Regions from separate parts of the Homo sapiens genome. Here region 1 is linked to region 2. The links come from fine-mapping of genetic effects on gene expression. Tissue or cell type: whole blood. Region 2 holds a variant in brackets; the other region holds the start of a gene. All regions are shown on one strand. Distances are between the middles of the regions.

Region 1 (8,336 bases), 190 kb before region 2:
CTTATGACCTGGTAAGCTCTTCACTTTCCCTTTTCTCCACCAGAGTACAGGCTGTGGATTCCAGGCTGAAAGAATAGCTCATGCCAGAGTCTCTCCCCCTGTAGCTGGTGAGCACCCTCAGTAGTAGATGGAGCTGTTCAAAACAACATAGTAAATAAAGACATCTTTCTGAGAAACTTATGTGTTTTCCAGTTTGCATTGTTTATATATTAAGCACGAGAAACTAGCTAAACTATAGAAAATCTGCTTGCCTATGAAGAGAAGAATCAGGAAGAGGTACTTTCCCCACAAACTTTATATTTGCAAGAGGACAGTGCATTTTTTTCTAAGTCCTATCATAACATCTACTTTTCGTCAAACAGTGAAAGCCTATGAGATCCATAGTCTTTTTTTTTTTTTTGAGACGGATTCTTGCTCGGTCGCCCAGGCTGGAGTGCAGTGGTGTGATCTCGGCTCACTGCAAGCTCTGCCTCCCAGGTTCACGCCATTCTCCTGCCTCAGCCTCCCAAGTAGCTGGGACTACAGGCGCCCGTCACCATGCCTGGCTAATTTTTTGTATTTTCAGTAGAGACGGGGTTTCACTGTGTTAGCCAGGATGGTCTCAATCTCCTGACCTCGTGATCCACCCACCTCGGCCTCCCAAAGTGCTGGGATTACAGGCGTGAGCCACCGCGCCTGGCCAATCCATAGTCTTAGACTAGGAATTACTGGGTTTCTTGTGATGTTTGAAGGCTCAGATGCTACCTTGACACAGTAGTTGAGGATGCATCAGAATCAACTGGCAGGTTTATTAAGACACAGATTACTGGGCCTCATCCCCAGAGTTTTAATTCTGAATTTGCATTTCTAACAAGTTCCCAGGTGATGCTATTTTTCTGGCCTACATTTTGAGAACAACTACCTTAAGGAATTGGCTACCATTTTATTTAAAAAATAACTTAGGTTGCCGGGCACGGTGGCTGTTGCCTGTAATCCCAGCACTTTGGGAGGCTGAGGCGGATGGATCACCTGAGGTCGGGAGTTTGAGACCAGCCTGACCAACATGGAGAAACCCCGTCTCTACTAAAAATACAAAAAAATTAGCCGGGCGTGGTGGTGCATGCCTGTAATCCTAGCTACTCAGGAAGCTGAGGCAGGAGAATCGCTTGAACCTGGGAGGCAGAGGTTGTGGTGAGCTGAGATTGCGCCATTGTACTCCAGCCTGGGCAACAAGTGCGAAACTCCGTCTCAAAAAAAAAAAAAAAAAAAAACTTAGGTCATGTATGTATTAAAAATATGCAAAAAGTACAGTTTCGTTTCTAAGGAGCTACCTATATAATTCAGCACTTTGGTTTTGATACTCATGAATTCTCATGAGTCCTACCTAAGGGAAAACTGAATTTTTTATTCATGCAATGGCATATGTTTAAAATCAGGACTATCAAGCAAAAGCAATACCAGAAAAGATTCCTTCCCTTTGTTATTTATGCAATCCAAAGGTCTCTGGTTGCTCAAAATGCAGGAGGTACTTGTGTGGTATTTTTAAACCTTAATAACACATTTTTGGACCAGAATCACACGAGGACAGCATATACCGTATCCTTGTTGAAAGAACTTTGGCTAGTTGTGTCCGCTAATTAGGAAGTGCTAGAAGGGGGACCTCAGAATTTTCCTATCCTAAACACTCTTGGTTGAATTGAGAAAAACAAGATACGCCTTGAATGAACAGATGGAGAGTAACATACCCCCGGACTTCTGAGGGCATCTGCAGAATAGACTTACAGGCATGGATTCTGGAATTAGACTGTACTGGTATAAATCCCAGTTCTGTTACTTACTAGCTTGAGCAAATTATTTAACTTTTTTGCAACTCAGTTTTCTTATCTGTAAAATAGGAATAATAATAGTGTTTATTTCATAGGGATATTTTGAAGATTTAATGAGTTAGTACGTGGAAAGTGCTTAGAATAGTATCAGGTGCAAAATAAGTGTTAAAAAAACTTGGCATCATCCACAAACCAATCTCTCTCTAAAATGGCATACCTTTCAAAAGTGTTACTGAGTCTTACACTGACTAGTTGAAAGTATCAAGCATAGTGAATGTGCCCTAATAACACTGGCTTAATCTGCAAGCCACTGATCTTTTCAACCTCATAATTTTGGAGGCTTCTCAAGGGATAGTTATATAGTTCCTTAAAGCCCTATTTCCCACTGGTCTCGTCTCTCACTACATTGGAGATGTACATATTAATCTCATACCAGACATTTGCCCAAATCAGGGTTTCTCAATGTTGGCAAATTTAAGGCTGGATAAATTTTTGGATAAATTACATCGGTAGCTCCTTAGATACTAAAACGTACCTTTTGCACCAATCTATCTGTGCTAGTGGTTCTCATCCAGGGTGATTGCCTCTCAGGGAACATTTGGCAATGTCTGGAGATGTTTTTGGTTGTCTTAATGAGGGGGAGAGGGGTTCATTCTGGCATCTAGTGGGTAGAGGCCAGGGATGCTATTAAATATTCTACAATGCACAGGATAAGCTACCGCCACAAAATGTTACCCAGCCCTAAATTTGCCAACATTGAGAAACTCCGATTTGTGCAAATGTCTAGTTTGAGATTAATGTGTGGATCTTCAACTTGGTGAGAGGCCAGACCAGTGATATGCTGGTAGATATTTAACCATATTCTTCCATGCCCCTTCCCCACTGCTATGGTCTAAATGTTCATCTCCCTCAAAATTCATGTTGAAATCTTTTTTTTTTTTTTAGACAGTCTCCTTCTGTTGCCCATGTACAATCACAGCTCACTACAGCCTCAACCTCCTGGGCTCAAATGATTCTCTATCTTAGCCTCCCAAGTAGTGGGACTATAGGCATATACCACCATGCCCAGCTAATTTTTGTAGAAATGGGGTTTCACCATGTTGCCCAGGCTGATCTTGAACTCATGTCTCAGGCAATCCACCCGCCACAGCCTCCCAAAATGCTGGGATTACAGGCACGAACCACACACCTGGCCTGTAACTGTGTAATCTTGGAAGTTACTTAACATCTGTTTTAGATTCCTGATCTGTAAAATGGAGACAACACTAGCTTACCTCGTAGGCCAGCTATTAGTCCCAAATGAAGTGATATGAGAAGTATGTAGAATAGTGTTTGGTGCATATAAGTGCTCTACAAGTGTTACTATTTTTAAGACTGTTTCTCTGGAGTTGACAATCCTTCAATAGTTCCCCCTGTCTGGAAGGCGCCCCTACTCCCATTTACCAACCAGGCAAACTCCTACTCAACCATTAGGCTTTAGCTCAGGGGTCTATTTCTCATGAAGCCTTGGGTAACCCGTTTAAATATAATTTAACTTTTCTTCTTTGGACCTTGATCTTGAATCTCTCACTGCACTCAGCAACACGGTACTGTAATCATCTATTCACACGACTAGATTATCTTCCTTGTGGGCAGTGAGCTACTTGAGGGCAGGGGCAAGGTTTTTTTTTTGTTTTTGTTTTTAATTTCAGGACATAGCACTGTGCCTGATGCAGAGTAGGCAATTAGAAGCAATGAAAAGTATTAACTATGTATGGATATAGGAAAGAACCAGAAAGTACTGAGGGGGAAGAAAACACTTATTCTGCTAGGCTGACATTTTAGCCCTTGCTTTCATTATTTTCAGGTGGTTTCAGTCCCAAGTTAAAAACTGCTTTCATGCATCTGTGTAACCAACTGTTCCCCTTCCTGTTTTCTCCTTGGTTGAAAGAAGGGACTGGAGTGAGACCGCCTTAGAATGCCAGTTCCACCACTACCTAGTTATTCACTTTAGTCAAGTTTTTTTTAACCTTTCCAAGGCTGTTACCTCACTGCAGAATAAGGATGACAGTCATCCCTACCTCATAGAGCTGTTATGAGAATGAAATACTCATGTGCTCAATAAATGTCAGCTGTAGTAGTCATTTCTACAGAAATTCTGCTGAGGACTTTGACGCCCTTTCTAGCCATCTCCCAGTTTCGCACTGTTCTCTCTCCCACGTGCTGCAGTCCACCTCTCACCAGACACAAACTCTTGTCTTTACATCCACACCTCCTGAACCCTGACTTCGGTATAGTTTTAAAATGATACACATTCGTTGCTGAAAATTAGATTAAACGGAGGAAAAAAAATTAACTCACTTCAAATCTCAGCAGTTAACCACTAACATTTTAGTATGTATTTGTTTAGACCTTTTCTTATGCAAATACATACGTTTAAACTTTTTTTTTCCGAGAGTTCACATCATACAAATTTTATTTTATGACTCGTCCTTGCACTTAGCACGGTCTCTCCCCCAACCTATCTCTGATGCCTTGAGAATCCCCCCGCCCCGCTGCAGACCCCCACCACTTCCAGCTCCCAGCGGTCCGGCCTTCCCGCGGTCCCGGTTCCGGCCCCACCTGCGGGACGCCGGCCGCCCCGCCCCGCCCCGCTCCGCTGCGGCCGGCCTCGATCCCTAGCCCCGCACCCCGCGCCTCGCTGCTACCGGGCGCCTTTCGCTCGCGGCTCCTCCGTGCGGCCCGCTTCCGGTGGGGCCAGGGCGTCTCCGCCGCAGCTCGGCTCCCGCGCGCTCAGCACCGCCAGCGGCGGCCAGATGCAGGCGGAGCGAGGAGCTCGGGGAGGCCGTGGGCGGCGGCCAGGCCGCGGCCGGCCTGGCGGAGATCGCCACAGCGAGCGGCCCGGAGCCGCAGCGGCGGTAGCCAGAGGCGGCGGCGGAGGCGGCGGCGGGGACGGAGGCGGACGCCGGGGCCGTGGCCGTGGCCGGGGCTTCCGCGGCGCTCGCGGAGGCCGAGGAGGAGGAGGCGCCCCGCGAGGCAGCCGCCGGGAGCCGGGAGGCTGGGGCGCAGGGGCCAGCGCGCCGGTAAGAGGCGACGGCTGGTGGGGCTGGGACCGCGTGTAACTGGGGCAAGTGGGGCCGAGGCCGCCAGTCAAGAGCCGCAAGAGAGCGTGCCAGGCGCGCGCCAGACGGGCGGCGGCGCCGGCGCCTGCGCGGGACGGGCGGATGGTGGCGCGGGGGCGCGCCTGGTGGCGGGGGCGCGCCTGGGTATGCGCTTGGCCCTCGTGGCCTCCTGGCCGGGCTGGCGCGAGACAGTGGGGGTAGGAGGGCTTCCCAGCCTGCCCCAGGGTCCGGGTTAGGAACCCAGAGGCCAAGGCCGTGTGTCAGGGCTGCAAGTCTCGGCGGCCCGTGGGCCGGCTGGGCTGTCTGTACGAGTACCACTATGGGACGGAGGCGCGGCCACGACGTGGTCCCTCGGCAGCCTTTACGGGCACGCTCCTGTTATTAGGAGGGAAAGGATTTTTTGGTCTGTTTTGTTAACTGTCTGTGCAATGCCTAGTACACAGTAGGCGCATAATAAAAAGTTTGTTGAGTGAAAGAATGACCCCTACGACTGGACTCTAGTATTTGGGGGCGGGACCAGATGCATAGTTCTTTGTAATAGCGTAGTTCTCTTTTATTATGCCTGTATGTGTAGAAATCAGCGAGCACTGGGCTTTGTCGTTTTGAATTTTCAATTTATAAATGAGCAGTCAAGTTCTGAGTTTTAATAGCAATATCATCAGTCTTATTGACACATTCATAGAAGGAAGTTTTTGGAGATTGGAGCAGGGGATGATATATATGGGGGCAAAGCTAACCATATCTCAGCTAAAGGAGTTAGAGGACTGTCTTTTTATGAGTTGTTCTGTTACCTTAACATCTGTAGGACAAGACCATCTTTATATTCTGCATTCTTATGCACACTGATTTAAAAAATTCTTTTTTGCATGAGGCAAAATTTGCTCTTACTGAAGTATTTACAATATCTTGAGGGCATAGCAGATAAGATATCCCTAAAGAGAGTAGTTGTATACAGCAATACAGAGCTGGAAAAAAAAGTATAAAACTTAAATTTAAATGTAACAAACTTAAATCTTGTTAGGATTAAGATAGGTAATAGGCAAAACTTGAATGAGATATAAAAACATTTTTAGGGTCAGTTTACCTCGTGTAAACTGACAGAAACTAAGGTAAATGACAGAAACTAAGACCAACCTAGTGCCCACTATATATCACATTTTGTTCTTATAACTCTATTATATATATATAATATATATGTAATGTAGAATTATGTAATATAATAGTATGTAATTATATATTAACTACAATGTTATATATTATTTATATATCCATATATAGAGAGTAATCTTTATTTTTACAGGTTAACTGACTTGCCTAAGCTTTCACAGCTAGTGGCAGAGCTGGGATTTATATCAAGCTGCCCTTGAGTCAACAGTATTTTATCTCTTACTTTTTCGTGAACCAGTTACCACTTTATTGAGAACAAAGTAGATATTCCTTAGCTGCAGGGATCGTGCTTTAAGAGTAATTGTAGTAATGGTACATTTGGTGTTAACTATGGTGTCTGGCGCACAGGACTTTACTAATAAGTGTCTTTAAGTTGAATTGAGTGAGTGAAGGTGCTTCTGTTTTGTTAATCTCTGTTGAATTAAATTGGGTGAAATGATGGTATATATTTTTTTTTTTTTTTTGAGACGGAGTTTTACTCTTGTTGCCCAGGCTGGAGTGCAATGGCATGATCTTGGCTTGCTGCAACCTCCGCCTCCCGGGTTCAAGTGATTCTCCTGCCTCAGCCTCCCAAGTAGCTGGGATTACAGGCATGAGCCACCTTGCCCGGCTAATTTTGTATTTTTAATAGAGATGGGGTTTCACCATGTTGGTCAGGCTGGTCTCGAACTCCTGACCTCAGGTGATCCACCCGCCTCGGCCTCCCAAGGTGCTGGGATATGGATTACAGGTGTGACCCACTGCGCCTGGTCATGATGGTATATCATTAAAAGAAAGAATAATACAAGACTTTAAAAAATTTAAGATAGTATTGTAACACATTCTGTTAAAATTTTAGGCTTTTTCTTTTGTCGAGTTGGTCTTATCCCTTCATCATCATGTTTTCAGCCAAAGCTGGAGGGAGGGATGTTGGGCAGATTGTTCCTTAATTTTGGTTTGGATTGGTCATCTCTAAGTTCCTTCCATTTCTCAGATTCTGAAGTACTGTTTGTATTTAGTCTTGCTAGGACACCATTTTTGGTGCTTAACCATTACATGAGACAAGATTGATTGACTTTCCTGAAGCCTTCTTGTTCTCATATCCCATGGTGCATTTGTGCCCCAAGGAGAGAGTAACCGAAATGATCAAAGGAAAAAAAAATCATAATAGACTCCTAGCCATGTAAAGACCAGTTGTCCACCTTCAGAAACCAATTTTGTGTACACCTTTGCTTTCTATTTTGGACCACTGCATACAAATGGAAAACAAAATCAATCTAACCAACTTCTACATAGCTATGTAATACTCCAGGGTAACTTAGTTGAGTACTAAGTTGAGTACATCTCTTAGTCTCTTGCTCTTAAATCATTCCTTCTGTAAATGGTCTGAGCTCTAAGCTTACTGATTATGGGTGAGCATAATTATCTTCACGGAATACTCACTAGAAGCATTATTGTACTAGATACAATCATTAACTTTAAAAAAAAAACACAAAACTGGCTGGGTGTGGTGGCTCGCGCTTGTAATCCCAGCACTTTGGGAGGCTGAGGTGGGTGGGTCACTTGAGTCTGGGAGTTCGAGACCAGACTGGGCAACATAACGAGACCCCCTCTCTATAAAAAAAATACAAAACTGCCGAGCATGGCGGGGTGCATCTGTAGTCCCTGCTACAAGGGAGGCTGAAGCAGCCGGATTGTTTTGAGCCCCGGAGGTGGAGGCTGCAGTGAGCTGTGATCCTGCCACTGCACTCCAGCCTGGGCAATAGAGTGAGACTCTGTCTCAAATAACTAACTTACTAACTAAATGAATAAATAATCCCCCTATCACTGCCCCCAATACTAGGATTGTTTAGTATTTATCTTTGTGATGGGCTGTTAGCAGAGAGGAAGACAAGGCCAGCTGGTAGTCTTTGGAATTTTTTTTCTTTTTTCCTTCCTCTAGTAATAACAGTAATTCACATTTGTCGAGTACTTAATATAAGATGAGACAGCTGAGGCACCGTTAAATAACTCACAGTTAGGAGAGGTGAAATAACTTTTTAATATCACTCAACCAGAAAATTGCTGAGCCTGGATTCCACCCCAGCATTTTCACTCCAGAGCCTGTTCTTTCGACTGCTGCTCTAAACTGCTCCTGGAATGACTTTGAGATTTGAAAAAGGGGTGTGTGGAGGACTGTTGAGTGATTCTTTCACATGCCTGATTATTTTTTTAACTGATATGTTAGTATGGTTATAAGGTTTTAAGGTAACATTGGTACCATCTTCAGTTATTGTGGGTGTTA
Region 2 (8,336 bases):
AACAAACTATAGCTATATACATCAACATAGGTGAGTTCCCAAACAATGCTAAAAAAAATTCAAGTGACAGTATAATGTATATAGTATAATTCCACTTATATTAAGTTCCAAATAGTCAAAATAGTCAAAATATATTTAGGGACAAATACCTAAGTGGGAAAACTATAAGGCAGGAGAATGAATATCACTAATATCACTGATTGCTAATTATTTAAGAATTAATATTACTAACCACTAATGAACATCAAAAATGTAGATAGCTGTGGGTTGGGAAGATATAATCAGGGAGGATAATACAGGGGATTTTTAAGCTCTCAGTAATGTTCTATTTTTTTAACCTTTTTGGTTTATAATTATACTGTAAAATGTACATATACATTTTATATGTTCTTATGTGTGCTTAACAATATAAAAGTAAAATGTTTAAAAAGAAAGCTCCCATGACATACAGTTAACTGAAAAAAAGCACGTTACAAAACATGAACATGTACTATGATGCCATTGTGAAAAAAAATTAAACATTGGTCTATCTAACATTTTAAAAAATAGCTATTTATTTATGCATTTCCTACTCATGGACGTTTAAGCCACTCTAAGTAAAAAATATTGGGAAATACCTTTGTTAGGACATTTTAGTGTACTTGTCTCATTATCTCCTTAGGATACATTGCTAGAAATTGAACTGCCTTCTTTTTTTTTTTTGAGATGAAGTCTTGCTCTGTCGCCCAGGCTGGAGCGCAGTGGTGTGATCTCAGCTCACTGCAACCTCCGCCTCCCAGGTTCAAGTGATTCTCCTTGCCTCAGACTCCCAAGTAGCTGGGATTACAGGCGCCCACCACCACGCTCAGCTAATTTTTTTGTATTTTTAGTAGAGACGGGGTTTCACTATGTTGGCCAGGCTGGTCTCGAACTCCTGACCTCATGAACCACCCGCCTCGGCCTCCCAAAGCGCTGGGATTACAGGCATGAACCATTGTGCCTGGCCGAAATTGAACTGCCTTCTTACTGGGACTTTTAGGCCACATGCCCCTGTATAACAAGACGCAGGCATTACTGATGATTGCACAAAGCTTACCAAAGGATTAAACTATTCAATAGTGTCTAAGACTTCTGTAATGTAATGACAAAGCATCAGAAACAGTGCTTTTCCTTGTGTGAGAAGATTGGCAGGGGACCCGCAGGCAGGGACAGACTTAGGATGTGAGGATGTGCCTGTTCACATTTTCCCCCTTCTAAGGGAAGAGGCTTCCTTTTCTGGAGAATATAAAGAAATAAATATCCTTAGTTGTACCTTTGCAGAGCTGCTTCTCAGTTTGCCTGATCATCTTTGGATAGGACACAGCTTTCTTCCCCTGGAGTCAGGGTTGCTGTTTCTTAACATGCCTATCTTAATTGGCACACCTAAGAGTTTCAACACAGTCACCTTTGTTTACTATTTGGCCCTATTTCTTTTCTTTTGCCACATTAATTTATCTTGAAACTGTCACTTACTTGTGAATCAACTGTCATTAGAGTGTGACATTTGCTAATGGTGATGGCCACTTTTTGGATAGTTACAGGAAAGAAAAGAGAATGAGTAACAGCTTAATGCCTACCACGTGCCAGGCATTTGCCAAGCATTTGACACATACATTCATTAATCCTCTGCAGGATGATATTCTCATCCTTCTATTACTGATGAGGAAACTAAGGCTGAGAAGGCTTGATTACCTTGTGCAAGTTCACAGACCAGTAAGCGTCAGAGCCTTGGTGTCACCTGCCTGTCAATCAGTGCTCTTCCTTCTTCCCACCACAGTGCCACATGCCTACAGGAAGGCAGGCTTGCCTCCACAGGTCTTCATATCCCTACCAGACGGCTCTATTTACCTGCCCATGTAATTGCCTCTCAATCTTACGTTAAGACGAGGTCTCTTACCAAGCAGGCTATTTGGTTAAGAGGAGGACTTCAGGCCGGGCGTGGTGGCTCATGCCTGTAATCCCAGCACTTTGGGAGGCTGAGGTGGGTGGATCACCAGATCAGGAGATCGAGACCATCCTGGCTAACACGGTGAAACCCCGTCTCTACTGAAAATACAAAAAAATTATCCAGGCGTGGTGGCAGGCGCCTGTAGTCCCAGCTACTCGGGAGGCTAAGGCAGGAGAATGGCGTGAACCCGGGAGGCAGAGCTTGCAGTGAGCTGAGATCGCGCCACTGCACTCCAGCCTGGGCAACAAAGGGAGACTCTGTCTCAAAAAAAAAAAAAAAAAAAAAAAAAAAGAGGACTTCAGAGATGGCAGTTATAGCAGTGCTGTGCCATGGAAGGCTATGGAAAAGCTGAAGCTGATCAACTTGATCTCTAGACGCCTTGGCCACTTAAGCCCTGGAAACACTGTGTGACTCGAACATGGAAAACTAGTTTAAGCAATATTGTACTGGACTGTCTGGTCTAAATCAAATATATTCAGTACTTTCTGATAATATCTTCTGTCCCCATTAAACTAATAGAAGTCTATACAAGTATTTGATGGGCAGTAAGTGGCTTTATTGAAGAGGCAAGGGAGAAAAGTCCTAGAAATCAAAAGACAGTTTATATTAACCAGTTTTAAGGCCAGGAGGAAAGAGTTACTCTATTTACAGTAGAGACTCCATCTCCTTTTTAGGTTGGGGTAGAGGGACACTCACGGTGTGTTGATCACCAAGCGGTCCCACTGCCCCTTGATGTCATCTTCAGATGGCTGTTCGGTGATATATAGGCCATCAAACTCCAGCTTCCTGGCGATTTCTTTTTCCCTTTTGAAAACCACCAAAGGCACCTAGGAGTGGGAGGAGGATGGTTACTCAGAGCAGGCTTTGTGATTAAAGCTCCTGCTCCCAGGTATTTGTCACAAATTAACCTTCCAACTTCAGAGCAGCAATCTCCTTATAGTGGAATTCTTAGAGTGCCTAGTTGTGGGATCAAAGCCAAATGAATCTCTTTGGCTAAATACCTACCTACCTCTTTAAAGCTGATCTGATTTGGGTCACCCTTTAAGTTTTCAGTTAGATGGCTAATATTAATACAAACTAGACTCCTTGACCCATGCTAGTGTGCAGGCCACGCCTAGATGAGCCCCAGGGTTGAATGAGTTAGGACTCCTAAGGCTCCTCGGCTGGAGTTGAACCAAGATTTAGAAAGGACAATAAACCATTCTAGAATAGATCGGCCAGCCACAGGAATATGATGAAATGTTCCAACTCCCTTCAATGTACAGGGCCATATTTATCTCATGGCGTTGAAGGTCAGTTAATGAAACATGGTCTCATAGTTAGAATGAGAAGATTCAGTCTTTCTGTATGAAGTTTTCTTCCTGAGATTCTGTCCGTAAAGAGCTCCTTCCAGGTAGTGGCATACTTGTTTCCTACTATCACTCTCTATTCTTTTATAATTGGAACTTTTATTTTAGACTAGATATAGTGGTATGGCTCTAAGGACCTACTGCCAAAGGGGAACACAGAAAGGGATTGGAAAATAATCCACTTGCCCCAACCATCACTAAGTGCACACACACTCCAAACATGGGACAGTTAATGAGGCCAGAGGATACTGCTGAAATCCCAGGAAATGAGAAGTCACAATTGACGCAGCTCCTCTAGCCAGAAAAGCTTAATTCAGACAGAGCTAGGGCGTCTCATCTCATCTCCAGCTGAGATGCCACTGGCTACTTGGCAACATCCTTGAGACCTTTGTCTCCAAACCCATGATATGCATGTACCCCACATCGCTTTTGTCCAAAACAAAAGAACAAAATTCAGACAGTGATTTGTAAAGAGTTACCTCTTGCCCTGTTTTTCTTTAAAACAATGAAATAACACTGATAAAATGAAAAACTCACGATAGGAAGGTGGCAAAGGCTAGTAGCCACTGCACACTGTGAGGAACTGATGATGACTGTTAGTACACAGATGATGTGGGAGGTGAGGCAAAGCTCAGCGACTAATGCCTGCCGTGTTTTGGATGACTCTAGAGAACAGTAGTAATATCAAGTTGTAGAGCGGTGCTCATCTCTGGGATTCCAAGCATTCCCCTTCAGTCTCCTAGAAGTTTGTATACTCTCGTAAACAGAACTTCCACATTCTTTACTTGCTAAATAGTGTTTCTTTTTTGTTTCTCCTGGTCACAGTATAATCTGTACTCCATCTAATAAGCTGAACTCTAGGATCTCAAACTAAGGAGCAGCAGCGAACATGCTTGAGGGTTTACTATGTGTTCTGAGTACATTTACACATACCTCTACATTTAATCCCCCCAGCAACTTTAGCAACAGTACTCATTTTTATGTATGAGAAGATAGAGGACTGGGAGTTTAAGTGGCAGAGCTGTGAGTTCAACCCAGGCAGCTTGGCTCCAGAATTTGCACTTTCATAGTTGCAATAGAGTCCTTAGTGTAGCCCAGGGCATAAGGTCTCTGCAGCACAGTAGCTGGACTTCCTACATGACACAATAGTTCACTGAGGGAAGAAAGGACCACAATATAGGAAAGTATTTCCTGGACTCTTCCTGGGAAGAAGATGGCTTGCTGTACTTAAGGAGACTTCCTACTCAAGAGAAGGAAGAAAAAAATGTAATGAGAAAAGCAGTGAGAAAAACACAATTATGATGTAGCAGAACTAGATCTGGACTTGGGACACCAAAAATTGAATGACAGAAGATTGACATAACTGTAGTGGTTGTGAATATGGCCCCAAGGAACCACGCCTCCTGGAATTCATGCCTTTGTGTAGTGCCTCTCCCCTCTACCATGCAGCAGTGCATCTGGGATGGCCATGTGACTTGCCTTAAACCACAGAATGCAATGGAAATGACACTGTACCAGTTCTGGGCCTAAGACCTAGGAAGGCTTAGCAGCTTCCACCTCCATGCTCTTTTTGGAAA[C/AC]CCAAGCCATCATGCAAGAAGTCTAGCTACCCTACCGGACAGATCATGTGGAAAGGCCACGTGGAGAAGGAGATGCTCTGAATCTCCCTGGAGAGAAAGAGGGAGACAGAGAGAGGCCCAGCTACCCCAGCTGAGCCCATCCTTCCAGTTGTCCCCCTGTGGAGCTGCCAGGCATGGGAATGTGCCATCTTGGCCATTCCAGCCCAGCTGAGCTCGCAGATGGCTGCAAATGTAGCGCCTTTACATAGAACAGAGGAACTGCCCAAATGTGCCAGTCATCTCACAGAATCACAGAGATAAATAGTTGTCATTTTAGACCACTGAGTTTTAGAGTGGTTTGTTATGCAGCAATGGATAACTGAAAACTAACACATCAGTAAGCTTTCTTCTGAGATCTTGAGTGGTTACCACCTAATGAAAAGGTATTTTTATAAAAATTTTGACATCAATTCAAAGATCAGAAGATTCTGTCATGACTAGCTCTCCATGTGACTTTAGCCTGATGACTCTAGTTCTATGAAATTCAACAAGAGGTACCTGAAATGGGACTCCTAGCTCAAGGCTTCTCAAACTTGAAAGTGCGTACAGATTGCCCAGTGATCATGCTAAGTGGTAGATTCTGAGTTAAAGGACTTAGGGGCTGGGCGCAGTGGCTCATGCTTGTAATCCCAGCACTGTGGGAGGCCGAGGCAGATGGATTACCTGAGGTCAGGAGTTCAGGACCAGCCTGGCCAACATAGTGAAACCCTGTCTCTACTAAAAAATACAAAAATTAGCTGGGCATGGTGGCAGGCATCTGTAATCCCAGCTACTCGGGAGGCTGAGACAGGACAATTGCTTGAACCTGGGAGGCGGAGGTTGCAGTGAGCCGAGCTTGCACCACTGCACTCCAGCCTGCGAGACAAGAGCGAAACCCATCTCAAAAACAACAACAACAGAAGAAAACCTATGGTGAGGCCTGAGACTCTGCAGGTCTAGGCAGCTCCCAAGTGATGTGCTGCTGCTGCTCTACGGACCTTACGAAGGCCTTTACGGCTAGCAAAGTCTTAGAGCAAAGGGCTGGCTGGGCTCAAAAAGGACATTTCTTCCTCAAGGAGTGAGATTAGATCCAGAGTGGCAAACAGCTCACCTTCAGGCAGTAGTAGCCCACCACACAGACTAGAGAGATGATGGTATGGATGATGGCCAGGGCACGCAGGGTTGGTGCCATATACCCGGTGCTCTCCTGAAGGACAAAGAATACCATCGCTTCTTCCTCTTCCTCGTCATTAAAGGAATTCCATAGGTTTGCAACATCCTCTGTCTCTTCTTCTAAAGGTTCTTCAGTGACCTGGCTCAAAATACACACTCGCTTATTAAACATCAAAAAGAACCTCAGCCATTGGGCTCTCCCCACATATTTTATATTGTTAGCATGTGCTATACAAATAGTAGTGACTCAACATTACTTGCTGAATGAATGAGGTTTTTAGGTGACTTATTACTAGGAATCACCCAGTATCTCTAATAATTGCAAACAAACTTTTAAAAAGGAGACAAAACCTATCTCTTGAGAAGAAAGCAAAAAAATTAAAATTAGGCAACTTTTACTACATATGCTTATAATCCTTATGCCACAGAAGGGAATCTCTGATCATGCTGTGGCCTGAGAGGAGGCAAAGACACACACACAAGCGTGAAGGATGTGTGTGCCCGCTCCCCCACCCACCACTGCCACCCAGCCAGAGACTCAGTATTTTCCATTCTTTCTGAGATGCCATTTACATTCATGGCTTCAGCCGCTATTCTTATACAGATGACTCTCAAATCTACAACTTTGAGGCTTTGTCCTGTAGCTCCAACTGCTTGCTGGCTTTCTCTTCTTGGATGGCTGTCTGAAGTCACTTCAACCTCAATGTGTTTAAAACCAAGCTTTGCCTCTCTTGGCTATGGACTTCCATTTTTCTTTTATGGGCAACAGAAGGTCATTAGTTTGTCGAGTGGAAAGTTGAGGTGGATAAAACAATGTTTCATACAAATTAGATTGGTGGTTTTAAGTAGAAAGGGAGATAGGCAAGAGATAGAAAAACCAGTTAAAGACTATGTCGAGAATTCAGGACCCTTCATTAATTCACTGCACTAACAATTATTACATGCCTACAGCATGCAAGACCCACTTGCCAATGTTCAAAACCTTCATTTAACTTGAGCAGTCCCCTCTCTTTCCAAATCCTGTTAATTTTTCCTTTATAACGCTTCTAACAAATAGGCCAACTATAATGGCTCTTGGTTACCTTATTCCTTGAAGAAAGAATTTTATTTATTACTCATTTTGAAATACCTTGTTGTTCCTAATACAGGGTCTAGCTCATGGTAGATGCTCAGCAAGTATTTGAAGACTAAGCAACGACTAAAATAAGCATGAACTATTGAAATAGTCCCCTCACTGGCTCTCTTGTCAGTAGTCTCTCCACTGCTAGAAATTGTATTCCTTTTAGAAGCCAATGTCTTAGAAATTTGCTACCTATTAGAATGTTTGCTACAATTAAGAGCACAAATTCTGTCATGATTCTTTTTCTACACATAGCATACTTAGTATACAGCATATTTAGCAAATAACCCCTGAATGAAGTATCACCTTATAAAAAAGCAGGATGAAGTTGATAGCGAAGGCTACAAACAGAGCAAGGAACCTCAGGTTGTAGAAATTCCTGGCCAGGTAATGCTGCAAAGAAAAGGACAGGCAGAAGTAGAAGAGCTTTGGAAGGAAAAGAGAACTTCCTACTTTCACACAGAAGGTCAGTTCTGGTTAGAAGTTCACACTTGACTCGTCCTACTCTTTGATGACCACTCTTCTAGGGTAACCCTGGCATTCTTTTCTTTCTTTTTTTTTGAGATGGAGTCTCGCTCTGTCCCCCAGGCTGGAGTGCAGTGGTGCAATCTCGGCTCACTGCAAGCTCCACCTCCCGGGTTCATGCCATTCTCCTGTCTCAGCCTCCCGAGTAGCTGGGACTACAGGCGCCCGCCAACACACCCGGCTAATTTTTTTGTTTTTTTACTAGAGACGGGGTTTCACTGTGTTAGCCAGGATGGTCTCGATCTCCTGACCTCGTGATCCACCCATCTCGGCCTCCCAAAATGCTGGGATTACAGGCGTGAGCCACCGTGCCCGGCCAACCCTGGCATTCTTAACACAGCCATGGCATGACTGTGTCGTGTCATGAACATGGAACCAAAATGTTGATTTAAAAAAAAATTGCTTAGAATTGGTATAAAGAATCCTGCTCTGGCTTTATTGCTCAGGGAGCCAAAGGCCTAAACACGCCACCAGCAGAGGACTCGAGCCTTGCCTTGAAGTGCTGTGTGACTGCATTTTCGTGATCACTCCACGCAGCAAGCAGTCTATTAGGAAACTGTAAGTGGTCTAGGCTCGCAGAAGACCCTGGCAACTCCCAACCTGGATGT

What was found. PIP is the estimated chance that this variant, and not a neighbour inherited with it, causes the effect. A credible set is the group of variants that fine-mapping cannot tell apart.
Region 1: AVEN starts here. The variant in region 2 is the best candidate, but not a certain one, in a credible set for the expression of AVEN in whole blood (INTERVAL, PIP 0.68).

The regions. Positions count from the first base shown.
Region 1 is chr15:34,035,311-34,043,646 of GRCh38, reverse strand. AVEN (apoptosis and caspase activation inhibitor) reads left to right here and starts at 4,443. Exons shown (of 6, transcript NM_020371.3): 1 at 4,443-4,867. The coding sequence starts at 4,601. All of the region lies in intron 1 of CHRM5 (cholinergic receptor muscarinic 5), which reads right to left. RefSeq lists silencers at 4,351-4,520, 4,701-4,910, 5,001-5,060, 5,411-5,470.
Region 2 is chr15:33,842,748-33,851,083 of GRCh38, reverse strand. RYR3 (ryanodine receptor 3) reads right to left here. Exons shown (of 104, transcript NM_001036.6): 92 at 7,510-7,596; 93 at 6,022-6,222; 94 at 2,663-2,793. Among named protein-coding and RNA genes, the nearest start is that of CHRM5, 120 kb to the left of the region's middle. The variant C/AC (reference allele first, on the strand shown) is at 4,893.